Regions from separate parts of the Homo sapiens genome. Here regions 1, 2, 4, 5, 6 and 7 are each reported to be linked to region 3. The links are microRNA targets in miRTarBase. Many come from high-throughput screens and were not tested one by one. Region 3 holds a microRNA gene; each other region holds the end of a gene's coding sequence.

Region 1 (3,098 bases), not on the chromosome of region 3:
CTGGGCCCACAAGAGCGTATGCAAATCTCTAAGTTTACGGGACTCTCAATGACCACTATCAGTCACTGGCTGGCCAACGTCAAGTACCAGCTTAGGAAAACGGGCGGGACAAAATTTCTGAAAAACATGGACAAAGGCCACCCCATCTTTTATTGCAGTGACTGTGCCTCCCAGTTCAGAACCCCTTCTACCTACATCAGTCACTTAGAATCTCACCTGGGTTTCCAAATGAAGGACATGACCCGCTTGTCAGTGGACCAGCAAAGCAAGGTGGAGCAAGAGATCTCCCGGGTATCGTCGGCTCAGAGGTCTCCAGAAACAATAGCTGCCGAAGAGGACACAGACTCTAAATTCAAGTGTAAGTTGTGCTGTCGGACATTTGTGAGCAAACATGCGGTAAAACTCCACCTAAGCAAAACGCACAGCAAGTCACCCGAACACCATTCACAGTTTGTAACAGACGTGGATGAAGAATAGCTCTGCAGGTATGGGTTTGCTCTGAGGCATTGCGATTAGCCTGGTGAGGAGCTTTCTTACAGGGAGATGGGTCTGCTTAGAGGCAGCTAGCATCTCCCAATGCCAAGCAGGATAGTAGCTTGCTGGAGTAGGATTTATTTTAATGAAAGACCAGAACATGAAAACTAAGTCCTAATCATTCTCTTAAGTCCTCTAGTTTAGAGCTGGGAACTAGAATAAAACGGGTTTAGAGAGATAAAGTTCACAGATTACTACTGCTTTTTTTAGGCCTTCATCATCCATAATCCTGAATTACCCAAGGCAAGCTCCAGTGTCCAGCCAAGGCTATCTTTCATTTTAATTATTAGATACTAACTTCTGTCACCATTCCATTTCACCACCCCACCTTTCCATAGCAATGCCAATGACTTATAAAGTGACAAAAAGTTGAGCAATGGAAGAAAGATTGGAGAGTGCTAGAAGTAGTTACTATATAGAGATTCCTTAATCAGCTCATGAATAGCTTAAAGTTGTCTTTATGATTGTTACTTGTAATGAATGCTTTTTTGCAGCTTACTTTTAGTAATTGCCACCTTCCACCTCTTCCCTTTGGTTATTTTCTACATTAAGTGTCCTATGAATGAGCATGTGCCCTTAACAGGTTGGTAGAAAAATATTCTTCTTTGCAGAACATTGAGATGAAAAGAAGCTTATTTTCTTCTTTCATCTTTTGGTTTTCTTGTGGATAGACCAGTATTAGAGCCCACCTTTAACAAAGATAGAGGCAATGTGTGCCCTTGAGGTTTCATTTCACATAAAGAAACAAATGGCTTTCTGTACACTTATGTTAATGTGCATGGAGTCCCATAGCTTGAAGATAATGTGCATCATGTGTCATAGAAGTTCCATGCCTTATATAGTCAACCATGCCCAGACCATTTGTGTCATTTTTAGGAAACAGGGCAGAGACCAAGGTCAAATGCTTTGGCAGATTAGTTTCACCAGCCATTTTCAAATGTTGAGGATAAGCAAGGCTGGGTCTTAACCAATCTCTTTCATTTGCCCATTTGTGTTTTCTCTACTTCTTTTTCTCTCCCTTCCAGCATGATGCCCGCATACACTAAGGGCCCTCCTATGTGTTCAGGTGGTCCTCCACCTTCGGCCATTCCCCAAGATGGGAACCCAACCTGAACTAAACCTTCTGTGCTGACCAATCCAGTTGACGTCATGTTAAGTTACGGATTTGCTCCTAGTTAATTAGCTCTTAATTCACGATCGAATATGAAAAACTAATAACATATAATCGCTCACCACACCCTATTGTCAGAGCATTGGTTTACAAATAGAAGACTTTCAGAACAAGCTAGAAAGGTAGGACACTAGGAGAGTTCCAGGTAGAGAGCGGTATTTACATGGCATGGCTTTGGGCTTGCCTCACATCAGACAGAGGGGTTTACTGGGTGTGAAGATGGCCAAGATGAAATAAAAAGTTAAAATATCTGACCTGGGACTTTCCCCTGAGTGAGGCGATCTACGCTTCTGATGGAGAGGAGTCCTCCTATAACTCTAATTGCTATCTAGACCCAAATGAAGACTATCTTTTTGGTTTGCATGTTTTTATCATGATGATTGAATGTGTTATTGGCAGATTCTTCTCATTCTTTCCAAGCATGATTTGTTCAGCTCACGGAATTGAAAGAAAAGCCAAAATGCATCCATTGAATTCACACCTGAGCTTGGGGTTCAACAGCGTCCTATTTATTTGCTGCATAACATTTTAAATCTTAAATAACTTGCCATTATGTTTTCCTGGTTCTTAAAAAAAAAGAGGGGGGGCATACAGAGAATACTTAGAGAGAAGAAAGATATTTCAAATCCAATAGTGGTGGGTTGAAACCATGGTGAAGAGGACAAATAGGTAATATTTATTTGTACTATAACAAAGACCACTTTTCCACCTGTTAGGTTTGTAATCTTTTTTAGAAAATTAATATAATTGCCAAAACACTCTGATATGTAGATAGGGAGAGGTAAGGAAAAGAAAGCTTGATCCATCGTCAGTCAGAATCTGGAGTGTATGATACCTGTTCTAGGGATTCAAAGGTGAACCAATAATTTGGAAAAACATATACAAAAGGTACTTCCAAATCCATTAAATACATAGATAAGATAGCCATTTTGGCACTTCTCTGCATTTGTACAGGATGAGTATATCTAATTTGGACCTCGAAAGCACCGTATTGGTGTTTTCATTATACAAAACCAAAGCTCCATCCTTACAAGCACCATTAGGCTGTGGTTCTGAGAGGATTGCAGAAAAACAGGTTTGAGTGTTTGGGACTCACTCAAAGCCATGGGCGTGTATGTATGTTTTGTAAACAGAAAAGATGGTGCAGGTACTGGCTGTGTTTGTGTTCATCGTAAAAATACTCCTATCTGCCTGAATGTTTCCCCCATCTGTACAAAGGTCGATTCTTGGTGCTTTGGTCACCTTAGAAAAAAATGCCTCCACCCCCGGGGTCCTCTTTTAGAACAATATTTATGCAATACCTTGCCCATTGCTTAGAATGATGCATGTAAGGTTTCTAAATGGTCATGAAATGACATCACTGTTGTCTGGAACTCTAATCTTAGTTGTAATG
Region 2 (3,098 bases), not on the chromosome of region 3:
GGGAGGCTGAGGCAGCAGAATCGCTTGAACCCAGGAGGCAGAGGTTGCAGTGAGCTGAGATCGCACCAGTGCACACCAGCCTGGTGACAGAGCGAGACTCCATCTCAAAAAAATAAATAAATAGAATTTGATGAGGTTTTAGGTCATTCTTTTTTGACTTGTCTATGGTCAAAATATTTTCCCCAAAGCAAACATTGGAAATAATGGGGCTCATCTTAAAGGGGCAGGTGTGAGACAGCCAAACTAGTGAGCTTATTGGAAGCAATCAGGTTTAGTAATTACAGAGGGTTGGTCTTCCCTTTCCTGGCAAGGATTTAGAGCCATAGTAGTGATGGCTTTTTGTTAAAGGTTTTTCTTGCCCTTTCAGGAACTTCACCCGGATGAAATTGACACCGACTCTGCCTACATTCTTTTCTATGAGCAGCAGGGGATAGACTATGCACAATTTCTGCCAAAGACTGATGGCAAAAAGATGGCAGACACAAGCAGTATGGATGAAGACTTTGAGTCTGATTACAAAAAGTACTGTGTGTTACAGTAAAGCTACCACTCTGGCTGCTAGACAGCTTGGCGGTGAGGGAGATGACTCCTTGTAGCTGACATTTGGCAAAAGCGTCACTGAAAGGCAAGCTAAATGTAGTTATTTTATCCTGTGGCCCTGAAGCACAAAATAAAAATTCTAATTAAAATAGTTAACTTTAAGAGTAGTAATCATTTTATTTTGAAGTCTCATACAAGCTCTCCGATAGAGAACTTTCAGGCAGATCCCACCATTAGCCTGTAAACAAAAGGTTTGGCACCAGCCACCTGGGACCAAATAAGAATTCAATTGTGCTTGTCCAGATATGAACAAATATGTAGTGAGTATAGAGTTTACCATAATCATAACAAATATTAAAGATTTCCTTGGAGTCAGAGTAAAAAACAAACAATTATAATGTTGTCTAGGGACGACATGATATGCTACCTCCTTTTTCCTGAAGTTTTATTCCATTATATTGACAAGATGGAGAAAGCAAGATCACGAAGGTGTGCAAATGATTCTTAAGGCATGGACGAGGATTTTTCAATTTATTTTTTAAACTGTTTCCATACCCTTTCTTTGTCTTTCTTGCTTTTTGTTTTTGCCGTTGTATTTATGTTTGAGACACAACCAGTCATTGGTGGCAGGGGCATATAGTGGTCAGTCTGAAAGGGAGGCTCTCTTAAGAGCTGTGTGCCTTCCACCCAGAGCCTTGTGGGAGACCCAGTAGAAAGAAACAGCATCCTGGGAAATCCAGCTACCATGGCCCTCCCAGTGGAGGCATCTTACATTTAGGATACTTCAAGTATCCTCAGAAATGTATTCTGCACCCCCGGCCCCACCCATGCTGAGGGAAGGGGAGCAGTTGCCAATATTTGCACCATCTTCACATGCACCTGTTGCAACAAGAGCTTCTGGGAAGGTAAGTGGCATTGGAGCTAGATCACGTTTCACAATTAGTGGTTGTTCTTTTCTGTGTTTGTCTTGCACTTTAAAAAAGAGAGAACACATGCAAATGAACTTGCTTGTGTGTATTTGATGGCTCTAAGGGCTATAAATTACAAACAAAACACATCCCAGACATTAGGAGTTCATAAGTGTATTTAATGAAATTGGTGGTTTTAGGAAGTCAACTTTAGTTTTGCTTTGTTTGCATGTCCACTAATTTTTTTATTTTGATATTTGTCTTTTTTTTAAATTTTACAGTAGTCATCGAAAGTTATGTTTCTTTGCTTACTTCATTTTTTTCTCTAATCAAGACTGGAACAAAAGTATAAATATTATTTATTTCAGGTAGCATTTTTTTCGTGTAGTTTTTTAATATATACTTGAAGGAAATGTTTCACCTTATTTTTGGTCTTTGTTTATTCATTTAGACCCTGCAAGTTGATTCTCATTAATTGTCAGATTCCACTACCCTTTCTTCCTCATAGATAGTAATTACCAATGTAACTAAGTATTTGTGTTCTGATATCTGAGGCCAGTAACTATTAATATCTAGTTCTCAGAGCATTTGGAAAGGTTATCTTAAATGGCTACCTAAATTGAAATCCTTTTCAGAAAAAATATAATTGCAAGTAGGTAGGACTGGCCTAAATTGTCTAATGTAATAAAGTCAGACAAAATGCATACTTTATAGTTTCAAGATTTTCAGTATATAAAATCTGTCCATTCCCATTAAAAAGTGGAAGATTTTAAATAATTTCTTTACAGATGTTTTATTTAAGCAGGTAGCTCAATCTACTAATGTTGTTTGATCTGTGTTTGTTATACTGGTTGTAATTAATTTTTTTAATTCATGAACTAGCAGAAAATTTATTAAATTAACTATTAACTACATTCACCTTGTAAATTACTGTATAAAACTTGTTGACAATGCACTGACTTTAGAAAGATGTTAATGTACATAAATAGAGTGTAAATAAAATAGTGTTGATGTACCGAAATATGAACTGTATAAAAAGTATTGGTAATTGTATATGGGGTGTACCTGTTTATCTGTAACTAGTATACAAACAAATTAAATACTGTGGATGCCTCCATGTGCCGTTTTTCCTCATACAAGTAAACACAGAAAGACAAATTCTTCAGCCTCCCTCTCTGTGATCCTGTTTTAATTCTCCTACTTGAATAATTTCTTTCTGACTTACAGAGGGGATGCTTCATCTCTGAGGTTGGAAACTCTGTAGAGCAGGATTCCCAAACTCCTGGGCTACAGACCAGTACCATCTGTGGCCTGTTAGGAACTGGGCTGCACAGCAGGAGGTGAGCGGCAAGCTGTATTTAGAGCCGCTCCCCCTTGCTCCCATTACCACCTGAGCTCTGCCTCTGTTAGATCAGCAGCGGCATGCCATTCTCACAGGAGAACGAACCCTATTGTGAACTGTGCCTGCTAGCAATCTAGGTTGTGTGCTCCTTATGAGAATCTAATGCCTGATGATTTGAGGTGGAGCAGTTTTATCCTGAAACCACTCCCCCCATCCCCCAGTCCGTGGAAAAATTGTCTTCCACAACACCAGTCCCTGGTGCCAAAAAGGTTGGCAACCACTGATGTAGAGTGTAGAACAAGATCCCT
Region 3 (3,098 bases):
TTTGAGAAGTTTCTCTGCTCATTGATCTTGAAAATCTCCTTGCTTTAGAGAATGGATGTGCTCCTCATATGCTAAGGATAAACCAGATTTTGGTAAATCAGGTTATCTTAGGGGTCCCAGGTGAGTTTGCCATTTTAACGATGCTTAGAGTGAATCCTTGTATAAGGGAAAGTATCTTGTATATTCTGTATCCTTTAGGAACTCACGTCTGTTGACTTTATCAGATGTTGGGGTGGTGGTGAGGCTAAAGACCAATAGGCGACATATGGCAGGATCTTCCCTCCAAGTGACCCTCTGGAAAGGGCTATACTTACTTAATTTTGGTGGAGCTCATCATAGGGTCAGGAAACCAGGGAGAAAGCTGAGCAACTGGTATTTATAGATCTTTCTCTTTAAATCAGGTTTGCTCATGATTTGTCTGGTCTTTATTCTTCTCCATGTCTGAAACTGAGTTCCTTGGATTCCCTTCTCTTCAAAGCCCTCTTGGCAACCTTCTGAGGAATGGCAGAGTTCATTCTGATCCACGTCCGGTGAGCGTAGCTCAACCGTGATGGAGCTTGACCTGTCAAATTCACAGAAAAATGTCCGTTACATATTCCAGCTGTTCCTTAAACATGCTCCCTAAGAGCTAGTTCCATTTGTTAGCTGTCAGAACGATGTGGAGGAATTGCTCCAGACCCTTGGATGTCATCAACCACTTTTGTTTATACACCAGTTATTTTCTCTATTAGCAAATCAATGTTTGGCAAAAAGAAAGCACAGGCTAAGAACTTTTCCTGATGAGTTGCTGCCCCAGCCTTGGAACTCTTCTCAGCCAAAAAAAAAAAAAAAAAAAAAAAAAAAAAAAAAAAAAAAAAAAAAAAAAGAAAGAAAGAAAGAAAGAAAGAAATTGAGGAGGAATTCAGTTTTACATGTTTTCCTTCCTGCTTACATGAACAGAGGAGGCCTACCTGAAGCTGAATCCAAGCACTGCCTTTGACGTTGGTAAAGATGGGGCTCTGAGCTCACATATCACCTTGGAAACTGGATCCTGTTACTGCTGGGAAAGGAATGCTTGGTTGCCAAAAGCATTAAGATAGGGAATGTGGATTCCACCTCTCAGTGCTCCTGCCTTGGATCAATTAGGTAGGATACTACCCAGAGATACAGACATGATGGACCAAGTAACTTCTCCAAACTTTGATTCTCTCTGGATCCCATGGATATGGGAACTGTGATGTCCAGGAGATCCAGAGAGAATCAGAGTTTCAGTGAGTGAAACCTAGAGTGTGTGCTGCTAGGATTTTCCTCATAAACCTGGGTGTTTTATTCTTGTGGGCCAGAAAGTTATTTCATTCCTAAACCCGTGATGTAGACTTCTCAGAAATTCCAGTGGTGTGGAGGATCCAGCTTCTATCAGCTCACAAGAGCTGATTGCACATATCTCTCCCCAACTGCTGTTCAGTGGCATCAAGTTGGTAGCTTGAAATCTGCCATGATGAGAGTATTTACACTATAGAAATTGGCAAATATGGCAAATAAGGGTCCCCACCACCCATGCTTGTGAAACATCTTCCAGCACACCAAGGAAATTATCCTAACACGTAACATCACTTATGGGGGCTGTTTAGCTTCAGGGGAGGAAATCCCCTTTGCTCTGATCTCATTGTGTGTACCTGCTTTGCATAGGCAGACTACCCCTTGTTCTCTCATCTATTAAACTCGACCTGAGAGAGAGCTTCATGAGATGGGTTGTGTGACAGGAGATCACTAGGGTAATGAGTCTGTTCCTTTCGCTGCTCAGCTATATGACAGGTTATTTTACCTCTCTAGGCCTCAGCTTCCTCTTCACTATAATAAAAGTAATTTAGATCATTAAATAATTGCTAAGTTTCCTTGTAGCTTCGACATTCTGCAATTTGATGAGTGCTTGGCTGCTGGAAAATGTCATGTGTTTCAAAGGCTTGGGGCACATGCACATCATTCACAGTGACCAGCTGAGCTCTCTCATTTTCTTTCTGGATCTTGGACTCCCAGTAATTCTACTTTTATCTGGACTTCTATCTTCAGCATGAATGAGCAGGGTGCCTCTAAGTGAGAAGCATAATTGATTAGTTCCTTCCATCTGGGGGTGTCAAAGCACTTTCAAGTCAGTAGTCAGTATCCATCATGGTTGCTCTGCAGGGAAGACTGCCTGAGAGTGCCTGTTTTGCAAGGGACATATCACAGTGGTGGACCAAGGACCCAGAATTATTGACTTGTCTTTTAATCAGAAAAGGGGCTACTTCCTGGTCTTAAAGAAGTTCCAGCTTTGAGATTAATCTGCTGTCTATAACCCCAGATCACTTGGCATGCTCGGCCTGGCTGACCTGCTGACAGAACTTGATATATTTCCCATCTCTCTGACATGGAGATAAACCTGAATAGGATTTTGCTAGTTCAGAGGATTTGGGGATACATGTTTAGGTAAAGTTTTCCTATAAAATTCCTTAAAAGAGGTGTGGTGTGGGTTTTTGTTGGGAATTGAGGCTACACTTAATGGAATGTGGAAGAGACCAAATCCACCTTTATGGGGTGCCTGGATGGAAAAGGTGTACTGATAGGAAGTTGGGACTGACCACAGACTTGGGCTGCTTTGTGATTTTGCTTACAGTCTTGCCAAGACCTAGCATCTGCCAAAATACGTGTCTCTGGGCCCTCTCTACCGAAATGTACACATTGACATGCACCAACTCATGCCGCTGTTGTTATGATTGTGTTTATGAAGCCATTTACTCTTGAATCAAGAACCTGAGTGACTTGCTGAGTGTTTGTAGGTTTATTGTCCACTCTGCCAGCTGACTGGGCTGTGTGTGTTCAATGGCTGAAGCCATGATTCCCACAGCTGAAGGTTTGGTCCATTGAGTCTGCCACCATAAAGCACAAGCTATGTGAAGGGCTGGAAAAGAAATAAATTCTTCTGGGATTAACTCCAAAGCAGAAGTACAGTTCTGTCTTGCACAGATAATAGAGGCTGGGTTCAAACTTCTTGGGGTCAGACTGCCAGCTGTGACCCACATTGGAGGTCTACCATCTTTTCTTGTTGGAATACTTCCTAAGAATATATTTTTTAAAAAATC
Region 4 (3,098 bases), not on the chromosome of region 3:
TGTGTGACTGCCTCTTCAATTTTTGGGGAATGCTTATTATTAAAGATGATACCCTTTATTCTTGAACTAAGAAGACCAAACTGTTAAGAGAAATACCTGATTGTCAATAAATTGATGCTGCATAGGAATATGGCTCACCTTCCCTATATTTTACTAGCTACCTTCTTGGATGAGAATTTGTTTTCTCTCCTATGTCAGAATCTGCTATAAACACTCTTAACCATCCCCAAGCTGAATTTTTCCTTGTATCAAGTCTAAACTGCAAAATCATGAAAGAAGGCTGTGATAAGCTTCTAAAACAAACAATAAAATCCCTTAGAAGAAATTGAAGAAATTAACAATGCTACTTAGATCTTTCTCCCTCCTGCCTTCCTTTCCTTTCTCCTTCCTTCCTTCCTTCCTTCCTTCCTCCCTCCCTCCCTCCCTCCCTCCCTCCCTCCCTCCCTCCCCCCCTTCCCCGTCCCCCCCTCCCTGCCTTCCTTCCTTCCTTCCTTCCTTCTTTCCTTTCTTTTTTTCCAGTTACAAAGTTTCTCATTTTATAACATGGAACAGCTATTTACAAGGTTCCAACTTAATGACATACCATATTTGGCTCTGCAAGATTACATTCAAATATAATCTCAAAATAATTCTCTGTCCTCTCATGAACTGAACCACTTTCAGTGCTTACTACTGTGTAAGTGAGAGCAAGGGTTGGTTTTCTGACAAAGACATCTATATGCAGAGAGCCAGCTCTCTCGGCAAGACATTTCCTAAGAAATCCTTCTGGTGATGTGGTAACACCAAGCTTTGTGGTACTCATAAAATTTCTGTCTAAATTTATTACAAGTTGCCCAGCAATTTTGGTTAAGGACCTAGATCACATTTCAGTGTTAATGTCAAGATGACTCTTATAGATGTAAATTTAAATAGAGCAGGGAAGATGAATATCATGCAATTCTTAGCACCCTGGCATAGGATAACAGTGGACCACCATGAACAGTGGTGCTGCAAACACCATCAGTGAAACAGAACAGGGATTATGCAGGCAACCAAATAAAACATTAACCTAGAACACTGGGAAAAACATCTGCAGAGGAGCACAAGGAGTGAACTGCTTTTCATTATGGCCAGTGCTCTGTATTAGAGCTCTGACAGTATCTCCAGAATACAGTAGGAGCCTGGGCATCTGTTGACTTTTTCTGCCTTGCTCACTTTCACTGTATTTTATCTGAAATAGGAAACAATCTCTGCTCAGGGGAATTCATGGGACAAATGTTATTTAAGATTAGGGAGGAGGTAAAACAGGGCTGCTTAGGATCTCCAAGTGGTTCATCATTCTTTCACTGGGAGTTGACACTTGGAGACCTTCCTGTTTCTGGGGATTTACTCAACACATGCTGCTCATTTTCACAGTGGAGCAGGGCCTACCCTGTTAAATGCCAGGAAATATAAGAATCCCTCAGACTCATGAAATGAGAGTAAAATCTGAAATTTTCTCTCCTAGGTCACCTCGTCCACGTCATAATTCCTTATGCTGTTTGCTTACCCCATCGATAGTAGGCACTTTCATTTACAGTGATATTCTGAGTGACTCCCCACTCGGTTCTGATGATGGGACTAGGAGGAATATGGGGTCCTGCCCTTGGAAGGAGCATAGCTTGGTTTGAATACACACTGATGCCATGTGACAGCCATGGATGTAGGGAGGACTCTGCTCCTTGCCTCTTTCCCCGCCATCTCCCCCAGCAACTTGTTACAGCCGCATCTCACAATTACAATGCAGGACAGTATCTACAGCACAATGAGTCTATGTACACATGGACCATTCCCTTGGCATGCTTTAGAGAGAGACACACACACGCTCACACACATGTACACCCACGTGAGAGCGAAAGACTTGAGCACACACGCACAGTGGAGAAAATGAAAATGGCACTTCCTAGCATTTGCGGCATGACTAGTGCTCTGGGGAGGGGGTGGAGGTGAGGAGAGGTGAGGGAGGAAAGGTGGGTGAAAAGGGAGTATCTAGGGTGGGTGTGGGGGAGATAGAACGCACTGGAGGGAGAGGGGATGATCTCTAAAGTTGGAGAGATAGTGGAGGAAGGAAAGCCAGAGAAAGGCTCAACATAAGATTCCATTGATAGTCTGAAGTGGCTACAAGTCAGCTCAAATGAAAAATAGAATTAAAAGGTTATGGAAATATAAACACCAAAGGCAAGACCTTATTTTCTTCCCCACAGATGAAAAAAGATGAAGGAAGGAAGGATAAAGTGTGTGTTGGGGGGCTTAATATCCATCTGGTTCTTCTCTTATTTTTACAGCATCCAGATGTCCTTAGTGTGGTGTAGTCTTTACACAGCATACATTTGCTTAGTAGATATAAACATATCCCAGTAGAACCTTCTCCATCCTGAATGATACATAAATTTTTAATGATGGACTGTAAAATTGTTTTAAATGTTGTATTTTCTTCTTCACTTTCTTATTTCCCCCTTCATGTATAAACACACAAAGTTGTGAAATAAACGGTCTCCCCCATCTCTCTCTCTCTCTCTCTCTCTGTCTCTCTCTCTCTGTATTCTGTGTGACGCATTTTTGTGTGTTTTTTAAATTATTTTTAAATTTTTATTCTATTAACATTTGCTGAGAAGGCAGAGCAGAGATGCTGCCAGCAGCCACAGTGGTACGGCCAGACTGATGGATCCATTTATTCCTCTCACCGACCCAGGTCCTGCAGAGCAAAAGAGGAGAGAGAAAAAGAGAATGAGTTACATGGGCCCACTGTATGTTATAGCTGACTGCTGATGGTATCAGAGGTAAGACCTGGCCAGGTACTAGCATCTCAAAGTTACTGCACTTATGTGCAGCCCAAGAAGCGCTCAAAACTTTTCTAAATCCTTCTCCTCCTTGGGCTACAAGTATCCTAAGGGGCATCATTGGCTGAAACACTTCTAAATACAAAATGCTTTTGCCGGGTAAGTCCTTAAACTGGCTATCACTAATGTGTCTGATGGTACAGCAGGCTCCTGTTCACCCAGCCTCCTCCTGTTGGCCCTGCCCGAAGTAACTCTCTGGGGCCAGCACTCGTTAAGGTTCCAAGCATTGGTGAGGGTCCT
Region 5 (3,000 bases), not on the chromosome of region 3:
AGTGGGCCCAACTCTATCCTGTGCAGGGGGCGGCCACCTTTGGAGGAAAAGAAAGCCCTCTGCAAAGCCCCCTCTGTGGCCTCCTCCTGGCAGCCCTGGACACCTGTCCCCCAGGCTGGGGAGAAGCTGCTTCCACCTGGAGACACTTCAGAGGACTCCTTGTTCACGCCTCGTCCTGGGGAGGGCAGCGCTCCTGGGGTGCTGCCCAGCTCCCGGATAAGGCACAGATCGGAGCCCCAGCACCCCAAGGAGAAGCCGTTTATGTTCAACCTTGATGATGAAAACATACGGACCTCTGATGTGTGATGGAGCACAGTGCCATGGGAGGGAGGGAGGGAGGGAGGACTTGAGAGAAGGAGGCTGTGACTCAGTTTCTCTACCTTGTTGGAGGGTAGTCAGAGGCCTTTATGTCACTCATATTCCTGTGGATGCTCTTTGGGAGGGAGGGGCCCATCCAGCTGGGCTGTGTGTGTGTGTGTGTGTGTGTGTGTGTGTGTGTGTAATATCAACGCAGTGTATTTAATTTGGGGAAGTCACTAGGTTAGAACTGTAGGCATACTCAGTGGAGAGGAAGCTACCTATTCTATTCTAACTATTCTGAGGTCTTCCTGGAGAGGGATTGTTTTAGCAGCTCCTCTCCAGAGGGGGCTGGAAGTCCAGTTTCACCAATGACCAAGTTTTATTTCCTTGTCCTTGTTTTAGTTTTTTCATTTTGTTTTCAGTCCAGGTGCCTCGCAGCTCTTTTGGAATGGGCCAGCATTAGTCTAATTTTAAGCGCTATGTGTTTTGTACCCTTGCAAACTTGCTTTCTCTTTCTTCTTGCTGTTGCCCTTTGAATGAAGCCTTGTGTGCTTGCATGATCAGACCCTGTAATAGGATGAATTTCCATGCACTTAACATGAAGAGATACAAAAAGAATCTAGAGAGAGATATATATTTTTAATGAAATAGAAGCTTGGCATAGAAACATTGATTTAGATGTTATGAGTTGCTGGCCAGAGATTCCTCAGATAAAAGAGCCTAGAAAATTGAGTTTTGAGCGGGCATGGTGGCTCACGCCTGTAATGCCAGTAGTTTGGGAGGCTGAGGCGGGTGGATCACCTGAGGTCAGGAGTTCGAGATCAGCCTGGCCAACATGGTGAAACCCCGCCTCTACTAAAAAATATGCAAAATTAGCCGGGCGTGGTGGTGCAGGCCTGTAATCCCAGCTACTCAGAGGCTGAGGCAGGAGATTCACTTGAACCCAGGAGGTGGAGGTTGCAGTGAGCCAAGATCGCGCCATTGCACTCCAGTCAGGGCAACAAGAGTGAAACTCCGTCTCAAAATATAAAAGAAAATTGAGTGTCCCACCCAAATTTTAGGGCGTACCTCCTTCCATTTGATAAGAAGATGCTATTTCCAGTGTCCCTGGGAGAATTCTTCCATCCAGTTTATATGGTGAATTGCCACCAGCGTTCCCTAAAGGAAGAGAGAACTTAGCTTATTTCTGTCTGTGACTTTTATCAGCTAGATCAGTTAATTGTATTTTTAAATTAAAAATTAGTAACTAGAGGAAGAGACTAAGAGAACTATTTTTACCTGAGTAAATGCTCTCCTCTTCTTGTGTCCAAATCTAATGCAGAGGTGAAAACACTTGATGAGAAAATCCTTTGTGGCTTGAGGGGAATCATGTTTCTTTCAGGACGTGTTGTTTCCCTGAAGTCTATGTCACACTGAGAACTTTTTCTGACTGCACTGCTTTGGAGCTATTCATTTAAATTGAGTTTGGCCTAGTTTTCCTGGTATAAAACAGGAAATCTACATTGTTCCCTCTTTCTCTCCCTTCCATCCCTTCCCCTGCCTTTCCTATACACGCTGGTGTGCTTTTGCCCTCAGAAATTCTTGGTTTGGGAGTTATGTATTTTTGAGTGATCGAGGTTATGACATACTTGGAGCGGCATGATTTCAAGAAGCCATTCCAAATTCTTATAGCTCCTTAGCTCTGGTTTTACTCTCGTATTTTCCCCAAGAAAATTTTTTGGCTATTCAAAGAAAGCACAAAATATGTGATGTGGAACTCATGAAAATAGGGACTTTTGATATCTCTTTAAATATTCCCTGACTCACGGAAAAGATGTCCTCTTTTGGTGTATACATTGTGAAAATCTACCCATTTATCTCTCTCTCTCTCTTTTCTTTTAAATAAATTATCTGATAAGGCCGGCAAGGTGGCTCACGCCTGTAATCCCAGCACTTTGGGAGGCCGAGGCGAGCGGATCACGAGGTCAGGAGATCGAGACCGCGGTGAAACCCCGTCTCTACTAAAAATACGAAAAAAAAATTAGCCGGGCGCAGTGGCAGGCGCCTGTAGTCCCAGCTACTTGGGAGGCTGCGGCAGGAGAATGGTGTGAACCTGGGAGGCGGAGCTTGCAGTGAGCCAAGATCGCGCCACTGCACTCCAGCCTGGGCGACAGAGCAAGACTCCATCTCAAAAAAAAAATTATCTGATAGGTTACTATTGCTAAATTAATTGGCCATTATAATAAGCTGATTTGTTTCTTATTCAGCAAGATCTCTTTTGAGAATGTGACAAATTAAACATACATAGAATCCATATGGTATTATCCTGATAAAGGGAAACGAGGACACTAAGACTGTCAAATGGAAATCTTCTTGTCAATTGGCAAACACTTGGGAATTCCACATTAGAGCATTGCTTGTTTTTAATTTTTTTTTTTTAATTTTTAAAAGACAGGGTCTCACTCTCTTACCCAGGCTAGAGTGCAGTGGTGTGATCATAGTTCATCATAACTTTGAATCTCTGGGCTTAAGCAATCCTCCCATGTTAGCTTCCCAAGTAGCTAGGACTACAGGGTTGTGCTACCACGCCTGGCTAATTTTTAATTTTTTTTTATCTACAGAGCCTGGCTATGTTGCCCAGGCTCTCTCAAACTCCTGGCCCAAGTGATCCTCCTGCCTTGGCCTCCTAAAGTGTTGGGATTACAGGTGTGAGCCACTGCA
Region 6 (3,098 bases), not on the chromosome of region 3:
GTTTGTGGTAGTTTGTTACAGTGGCAACAAGAAACTAAAATATTCACAAAAATGATGAATGAAAAAAAGTGTATTATGTATGATTACATTTACATAAAATAAAAAACAGGCAAAACTAATCTATGATTTTAGAAGTCAGGATAGTAACTTTCAGCAAGAAAGAAGACAGTGTTAAGATGGGGAAAGAGGAGGGCTTCTGGGGTACACATAATGCTCTGTGTTTTGATCTGAAGACTAGTATGTGAGTTTGTTTAATTTGTGAAAACCTTTATTTGTGTACTGTTTTGTGTGTGTGTGGTATATGCAGTTTTAAAAACTGATGCCTTTTAAACACTTACTAATCTGATAATCTGCCGAAAAAGAATATATAACATATATTCAAGGGGATGGAAAAATACTTACTGAACAATAATTTTATTTCTCAAGAACGCTGAAGATTTTGTTTCTCTCTTCAAAAGATTTAAAAAATTTTAACTGGCAAAACATAATAGTGACTCTTAAATGCTAAAAAAAAAAAAAAAAAAAAAAAAAAAAGAAAAAACCTAAAAATAAAATATTGCATAAGTAAGCTTTGTTATGCCTCGATCTTAGGACTGTAAATTATAAAAATACAAGTAAAACCACATTTTTTGAAATAACAGTAAACAAAAACAAAAGGCAGGTACTACATACCAAATGACCAAAATGTCTTTTGGGCCTAAGATTCTTGAAAATAGTAAAAATGGTAATAATAGAAATCTCTCTATAGAACATTAAATATAAAAACCATTTATAAAACACATCACAATTTTATTGCTTGAAGAATACAGCATATGAAATCACAAGAATGTCAAAATGAAAAGTCACTAGGCTTCAAACGTATAATACATTATCAGATGCAGTAAAATATTAACCTGAACTCTGCATCAGAAAAAAAAAAAAAGGTGTGGAAAATATCTAAGTTGTTTACTTAAGAAACAGATATACTTAAAATAGAAAGTATAAGGATGTTACAGTACAAATTAGAAAAGCCAACACGTATTAACTTATCGTTCTAGACTAGACTACCTTTGGTACTTAAACTTTTTAAAAAACAATTTCTTCTATCTCATCCAAATGCACTTCATGGGTATGACATCCATGAAGTAACTTCAACTTAAAACATTCAGCAAAATTAACCTTTTCACTTCATGGGGGAAGTATATTTAATAAATGTATAACAATATTTCCCTTTTACTAAAACTGCAAAATATGATCATTAAGAAACCTAACAGTTATAAAACTTTACTTACTTAGCTCTCCAATTAAAATTGGAATCCTGGGAGCCACAATCTATTTTTGGGCTTGGTGAATACATAAGTTTAAAAGATTTGGCAACTGACATAGGAATTTAATTACTTAATACTATCTTAAGTGACTTTTCCTTTCTGTTTCCAAAATATAGACATTATGCCATTTCTTCAACATCCTGGATTCCTATAAACACTACCATACTGTATTTATTAGAACCAAATTAAAGCTTCTCTAACAAGCAGGTAGAAACTATTTATGTTCCATATACGGCTGATAAGTTATAACACAACTTATGTTTCATATAGGGCTGATCAGTTAATTCATATAGGGCTGATCAGTTGTAACATAACTTCTTAAGCAAAACTAATCTTTTTTTTAAAGCTATCACTCAATTATGGAGACAATAATGTCATCTCAAAAGGTAATGTTGGACTCTAGGCCATCTAGTTGGGAAAATGTAAAAGTAATTCTAAAAACAATAAGTAAACTATAACTACAAGTTAAATTAAAAATCCCTCTCTCATAGCAAGCATGCTCATTAACTTTCATTTCTTTCCCCCAGCAAAGGTTTGAATATTCATAAACCTCAGTTAAACCAAGAGAACCAATGTAATTGTTTCAAAAGTACCACCTATATATTTGAATAATATGAGTATGGATGGACTAGGTAAGTAATACTATCAACAATTACTGAATTGGAGTGAAAGAGTAAAAATCATGACAGACTTCCAAACTGGGCAGTCTTTGAAATGTCATAGTGGAGCTCAAAATGAATTATGCTGTAATAAAACTATAGTTTTTACCTCTACACAAAACAGAAACAAAATAAAAAAACATAACCACCAAATTTATACAAATACTATTAAACATACTCCTTCCTAGTTTTTGAATGTCTTGAAGTTTTTCTAAACAAGTATATTGATCTGAGCATATATATTTATTGCCTATATATGTACTCATTTTAAAAGACAAATTCAGATACTACAGAACTGAACTCTTTCACCAACCCAATCCAATGTCTACTGATTCACACAGCACCCCCCCCTTAATAATTTAAAATTCACAAGTTTTAGTTTAGTTAAAAGGGCAGAGGAAATGCAAATGCAGATTTAGAGCTTTGTAGAAATTTCACTGTATTTTTATAAACTTGAAGTTATCTGTAACACTGTTTATTGATCAAACGAAGGACTCGCTGCTATCTAAAATTTCATAAACACCATTAAAAATTCAAAATTGATATTATACTGAACCTTAAATTTTCAATAGTTCAAAGAGACAGTTTTTACATGTATAGCACACAATAGATGAAACTTAATAGCAGACATCCCTAGAATACCAATGACAAGTCCACCAAGATGCATACAAAATTACAGATAAGCATTTCTTTCACTGTTTTTGTTGTGCAGGGAAAAACATTTATAGAAGAAATAGAAACTCAGCTGGTGAATTTCAGATATCATCATCATCTTCTTCATCCTGAGAAGATCCCGCCTGATTAGATGCACTGGCTGAGGCAGCAGCAAGCTGGGCTTGTTGGGCAGCTTGCTGCATTTGAAGCCATTCCTGTTGGGCCAATTCTGCTTGTTGCTGTCTAGCCTAAACACCCAAAACATAAAAAAAAATAACAATTTTTTACAAACCCACAATATATACACTTTGGTTAAATGTAGATTAGGCCAATTTCAGACAGTTTATTATCATACTTGGATACTGTCCAAGTACTATGTAATTGTCACACATCTGGAGAACATAAACTCTATAGGTAAATATAATTAGAGATTGCTTTTTTCTAACTACACAGGTCTAAGAAATTTCTCAAACTTGGA
Region 7 (3,098 bases), not on the chromosome of region 3:
CCAATGGGTCATAAGTTTTGTCTTTTTACATAATCTCATGTTTCTTGGAGATTTGTTCATTTTTGAAAATTCTATTTTCTTTATTTTTATCTGACTGTTAATGTGAAGAACTAGTCTTTGAGTTCTGAGATTCTTTACTTGACTTGGTCTACTCTGCTGTTAATACTTCCAATGTGTTATGAAATTCTTGTGGTGAGTTTTTCAGCTCTGTCAGATCAGTTTTGTTCTTTCTTAAAATGGCTATTTCATATTTCATTCCTTGTATGGTTTTGTTGAATTCCTCAGATTCCTCGGAATGGGTTTCAATCTTCTGATTTTCAGTGATCTTCATTGCCATCCAGATTCTGAATTCTATTTCTGTAATTTCATCCATTTTATTCTGGTTAAGAATCACTGCAGAGCAGCTAGTTCAGTCATTTGGAGGTAAGGAGGCAATCTGGCTTTTAGAGTTTCAGGAGTTCTTGAGCTGGTTCTTTCTCACCTATGTGGACTGATGTTTCTTTAATTGCAGTGTAATTTGAGTATAGTCAGTCGGTTTCATTTCTGTATGTGTTCAGAGGGCTGAGGCTTTGTGCAGGGTCTTTATTTGCAGTTGAGTTCTTGTCCTTGGTTTTACAGAGGAGTATATTACCAAAGTATTTTTGGTGTTGAAGTTTGGTTTGCAATTTAATAGATAGTGCTTAAACATAATGACTGGTAGATAGGCTCTTACCCAGCCATGCAGCCCCTCTGTGTTTCCTCACATTTGTAGCCATGCTTCCCCTCAGTGCTCTGAGAGTGTGTGATCCTCTCCCACTCAAGTGCTGGTCATAGATCTCAGCTTAGCACTCCCAGACTGTGCACTGCAGGCCTGAGACAAGCTTAGGATTTTTTCTCTCTCCCCAGCTTGGTGGCAGCAGGGGCAGGGACCTTGGCATGCCACTCAGAGCCACTGCCAATTAGAATAATCAGCTGGGGAAAGGTGGTTGCATTGCAGGCCCAAGCTAGGGGCTCATGACTGGTGAAGAGCAGGAGGGCAGGGGAAGGCAGTCTTGCCTCTTTTCCATAGGGCACTGCAGCATGCTGGAGGTGCACAAATTCCAAGATTCCTAATCCATCCCTAATTACTGGCTAGAGAGGGATAAAATTCTGATACTGACACATATGTTTGGATGGCACTCCTCTGTCTCTGTCTTCTGCTACTGGTCAGACAAGCACAGCAGGTACCATTTATTCTACAAGAAATTTCTGAGTGTCTGTAACAGAACAGTGTTAGTTAATTAGGGATTAGACATAGGCCATGAATAACAATATTTCTCATCGTGGACACTTTACCTAGAGTGACTATCATTGTGGTCAGGCCAATTCTGGACACGTATTTATTTTATTTTATTTTATTTTTTATTGTTAGTTGCCGAAAGGTAGATTCTTCTGCAAGTTTTATAAAACCTCAAAAACTAAGTGACAGCACTTAATCAATACTTCTTGTAACAATTAAATTAAAGTCAGAAGAGCATTTCCTTACTTAGTTCTAGGAAAGTAAAAGTCAATCCCATACCAACTGGGAGACTTAATTCCAAAGCAGGTTTAACGTTGGCCTGAGCTGTTTACTAAAATAAGAAACGTACCTGCCTTGAGCTTACTCCTGGTCATGACATGGAACATACTTTTGAGAAATTTCCATTTTTTATTGATTCACAATTATTGTAGTAAGATTGATCATTTGTATCTGGTTTTGTCAAGATACCTGGAGGGCTCTGTTGCTTGGCTGGTTACACAGCAAGACTATGTCTACATGACCAGCTGAGTAAAAGGAAACCTGGCTGAAACTGAATTTTAGATCATCTTGTTTGAGGTGTTTTTTTCCACACATCCATGGTTTCTGGACCCAGAGAGAAAAATATAAGGACCATATTCTGGTATGGTCCTTATAGAGAGAGGGCAATTAGACCCTTCAACTAGCTTCTCTGAACCCATTTCCCTGAGCCAGCCTACGGCTGTGATACACATCTTTACTTTAATGCAGTTTCTATATTTTATCATTTTCTTGCAATAAACTGCAAATTTGCAAGCACCGTCACTTGGATTCTGCCAGTCTTTGTCAGCAACAGAAGCCTGTCTAAGTGCCACAGTTAGTGTGTGCTTACTGACCTAGGTAGGCAGACTGAATTTACAAGGAAACATTAACAACAGGCAGAAAGAGCAAATTGTGTCATTCCTTAGACAGGCAAGAGAATTGGACAAATCGTCTACAACCACCAGGTCATTCATTTTTTGGCAATTTTTGTTAGAGTTTGTTTTTAGACAAATAGACAATGATCATTGCATTGACACAAACCATTAGCTTTCCAGCTTTTGAAATTCTTTAAAAACAATCTAAGCTGCACCAGGCTAACAAAACAGATATTAATGATTGTCTCCGTGAATGAAATTGGGAAACTTACGTAATTATTGCCTAGGTGTGGAGAGAATTCCTCAAGCTGTCAGTTCTTGGTTTTTCCTTGTGCAGAGTGCTCACCTGAGAACAGAAGATATGTTTTGATCTGTAAGCTCAGAGACTGAGTAAGGATGAAAATAAAGTTTCCTAGCTTTTTTCTATTTTTCAAGGAAAGTTCAACTTTCCTGCAAGAATGTCATTAAAGCCACCATTTGCCTCTTGGTATTGTCTAGAAATTAGTCACCAAAATATATGAACTTTTCCCAGACATCATCTGTTTTCACTTTAAAGTAGCAATATGAAGTCCTGGGTGGGATAGGTCAGGGGGCAGTGGGGGCGGGGATGTGAGTTGGGAGATGATAACATTAGAGAAACCCTGGGGAATAAGTATTGATTTTTGCTTGTTACATGAGCTGGCTGTGCCTAAGCAAGCCCATGTCATGTGTTTAAAGTGCCATTTTATCAGGAAGACATTCTAGGGTCCTTCTGTTTAAATAATTCAGTGAGGGTTTTGTGAAAATGAATTTATAGGCCAATATGAACACTTGGGTGATATACAGAGCAGCGCAGGTGCCATTACTCAAAATCCCAGTGCTATTCCACCATCCAATATACAGAGAAATATTAACCTAGGATGGTGGCAAGCTGAGAGGCCCCAAGTATTTTTCACATGCCACTGGAT

What was found. The annotated mature microRNA hsa-miR-4768-5p reads AUUCUCUCUGGAUCCCAUGGAU and lies in region 3 at 1,183-1,204, shown strand. An mRNA with a match to its seed (bases 2 to 7 or 8) in the 3' UTR can be bound and repressed. Matches are read on the target gene's strand: a 7mer-m8 pairs with bases 2 to 8, a 7mer-A1 pairs with bases 2 to 7 and ends in A, and an 8mer does both.
Region 1: the mRNA of TSHZ2 is a reported target of hsa-miR-4768-5p. The part of its 3' UTR that is shown has no 7-base or 8-base seed match.
Region 2: miRTarBase lists USP32 as a target of hsa-miR-4768-5p. Seed matches in the 3' UTR shown: 7mer-m8 at 1,523-1,529.
Region 4: miRTarBase lists LSAMP as a target of hsa-miR-4768-5p. Seed matches in the 3' UTR shown: 8mer at 1,475-1,482 and 8mer at 182-189.
Region 5: miRTarBase lists PLEKHA2 as a target of hsa-miR-4768-5p. Seed matches in the 3' UTR shown: 7mer-m8 at 349-355 and 7mer-m8 at 1,468-1,474.
Region 6: miRTarBase lists DR1 as a target of hsa-miR-4768-5p. Seed matches in the 3' UTR shown: 8mer at 443-450.
Region 7: miRTarBase lists EMCN as a target of hsa-miR-4768-5p. The part of its 3' UTR that is shown has no 7-base or 8-base seed match.

What each region holds. Positions count from the first base shown.
Region 1 is chr20:53,256,087-53,259,184 of GRCh38, forward strand. TSHZ2 (teashirt zinc finger homeobox 2) reads left to right here. Exons shown (of 3, transcript NM_173485.6): 2 at 1-485. The coding sequence ends at 477. Among named protein-coding and RNA genes, the nearest start is that of TSHZ2-AS1, 250 kb to the right of the region's middle.
Region 2 is chr17:60,176,698-60,179,795 of GRCh38, reverse strand. USP32 (ubiquitin specific peptidase 32) reads left to right here. Exons shown (of 34, transcript NM_032582.4): 34 at 368-2,469. The coding sequence ends at 541. It also overlaps a transcript of CA4 not described here. Among named protein-coding and RNA genes, the nearest start is that of CA4, 28 kb to the right of the region's middle.
Region 3 is chrX:17,424,707-17,427,804 of GRCh38, forward strand. MIR4768 (microRNA 4768) reads left to right here and starts at 1,175; the gene lies at 1,175-1,248. The region is part of intron 1 of NHS (NHS actin remodeling regulator); the gene reads left to right.
Region 4 is chr3:115,807,702-115,810,799 of GRCh38, forward strand. It overlaps LSAMP (limbic system associated membrane protein), which reads right to left. Exons shown (of 7, transcript NM_002338.5): 7 at 1-2,713. The coding sequence ends at 2,616. The region is part of intron 1 of LOC124906269 (a long non-coding RNA gene); the gene reads left to right. Among named protein-coding and RNA genes, the nearest start is that of SNORD155, 96 kb to the right of the region's middle.
Region 5 is chr8:38,969,478-38,972,477 of GRCh38, forward strand. PLEKHA2 (pleckstrin homology domain containing A2) reads left to right here. Exons shown (of 12, transcript NM_021623.2): 12 at 1-3,000. The coding sequence ends at 306. Among named protein-coding and RNA genes, the nearest start is that of HTRA4, 3.2 kb to the right of the region's middle.
Region 6 is chr1:93,360,263-93,363,360 of GRCh38, reverse strand. DR1 (down-regulator of transcription 1) reads right to left here. Exons shown (of 3, transcript NM_001938.3): 3 at 1-2,868. The coding sequence ends at 2,722. Among named protein-coding and RNA genes, the nearest start is that of DR1, 16 kb to the right of the region's middle.
Region 7 is chr4:100,407,859-100,410,956 of GRCh38, forward strand. EMCN (endomucin) reads right to left here. Exons shown (of 12, transcript NM_016242.4): 11 at 2,424-2,497. The coding sequence ends at 2,463. Among named protein-coding and RNA genes, the nearest start is that of SNORA101A, 14 kb to the left of the region's middle.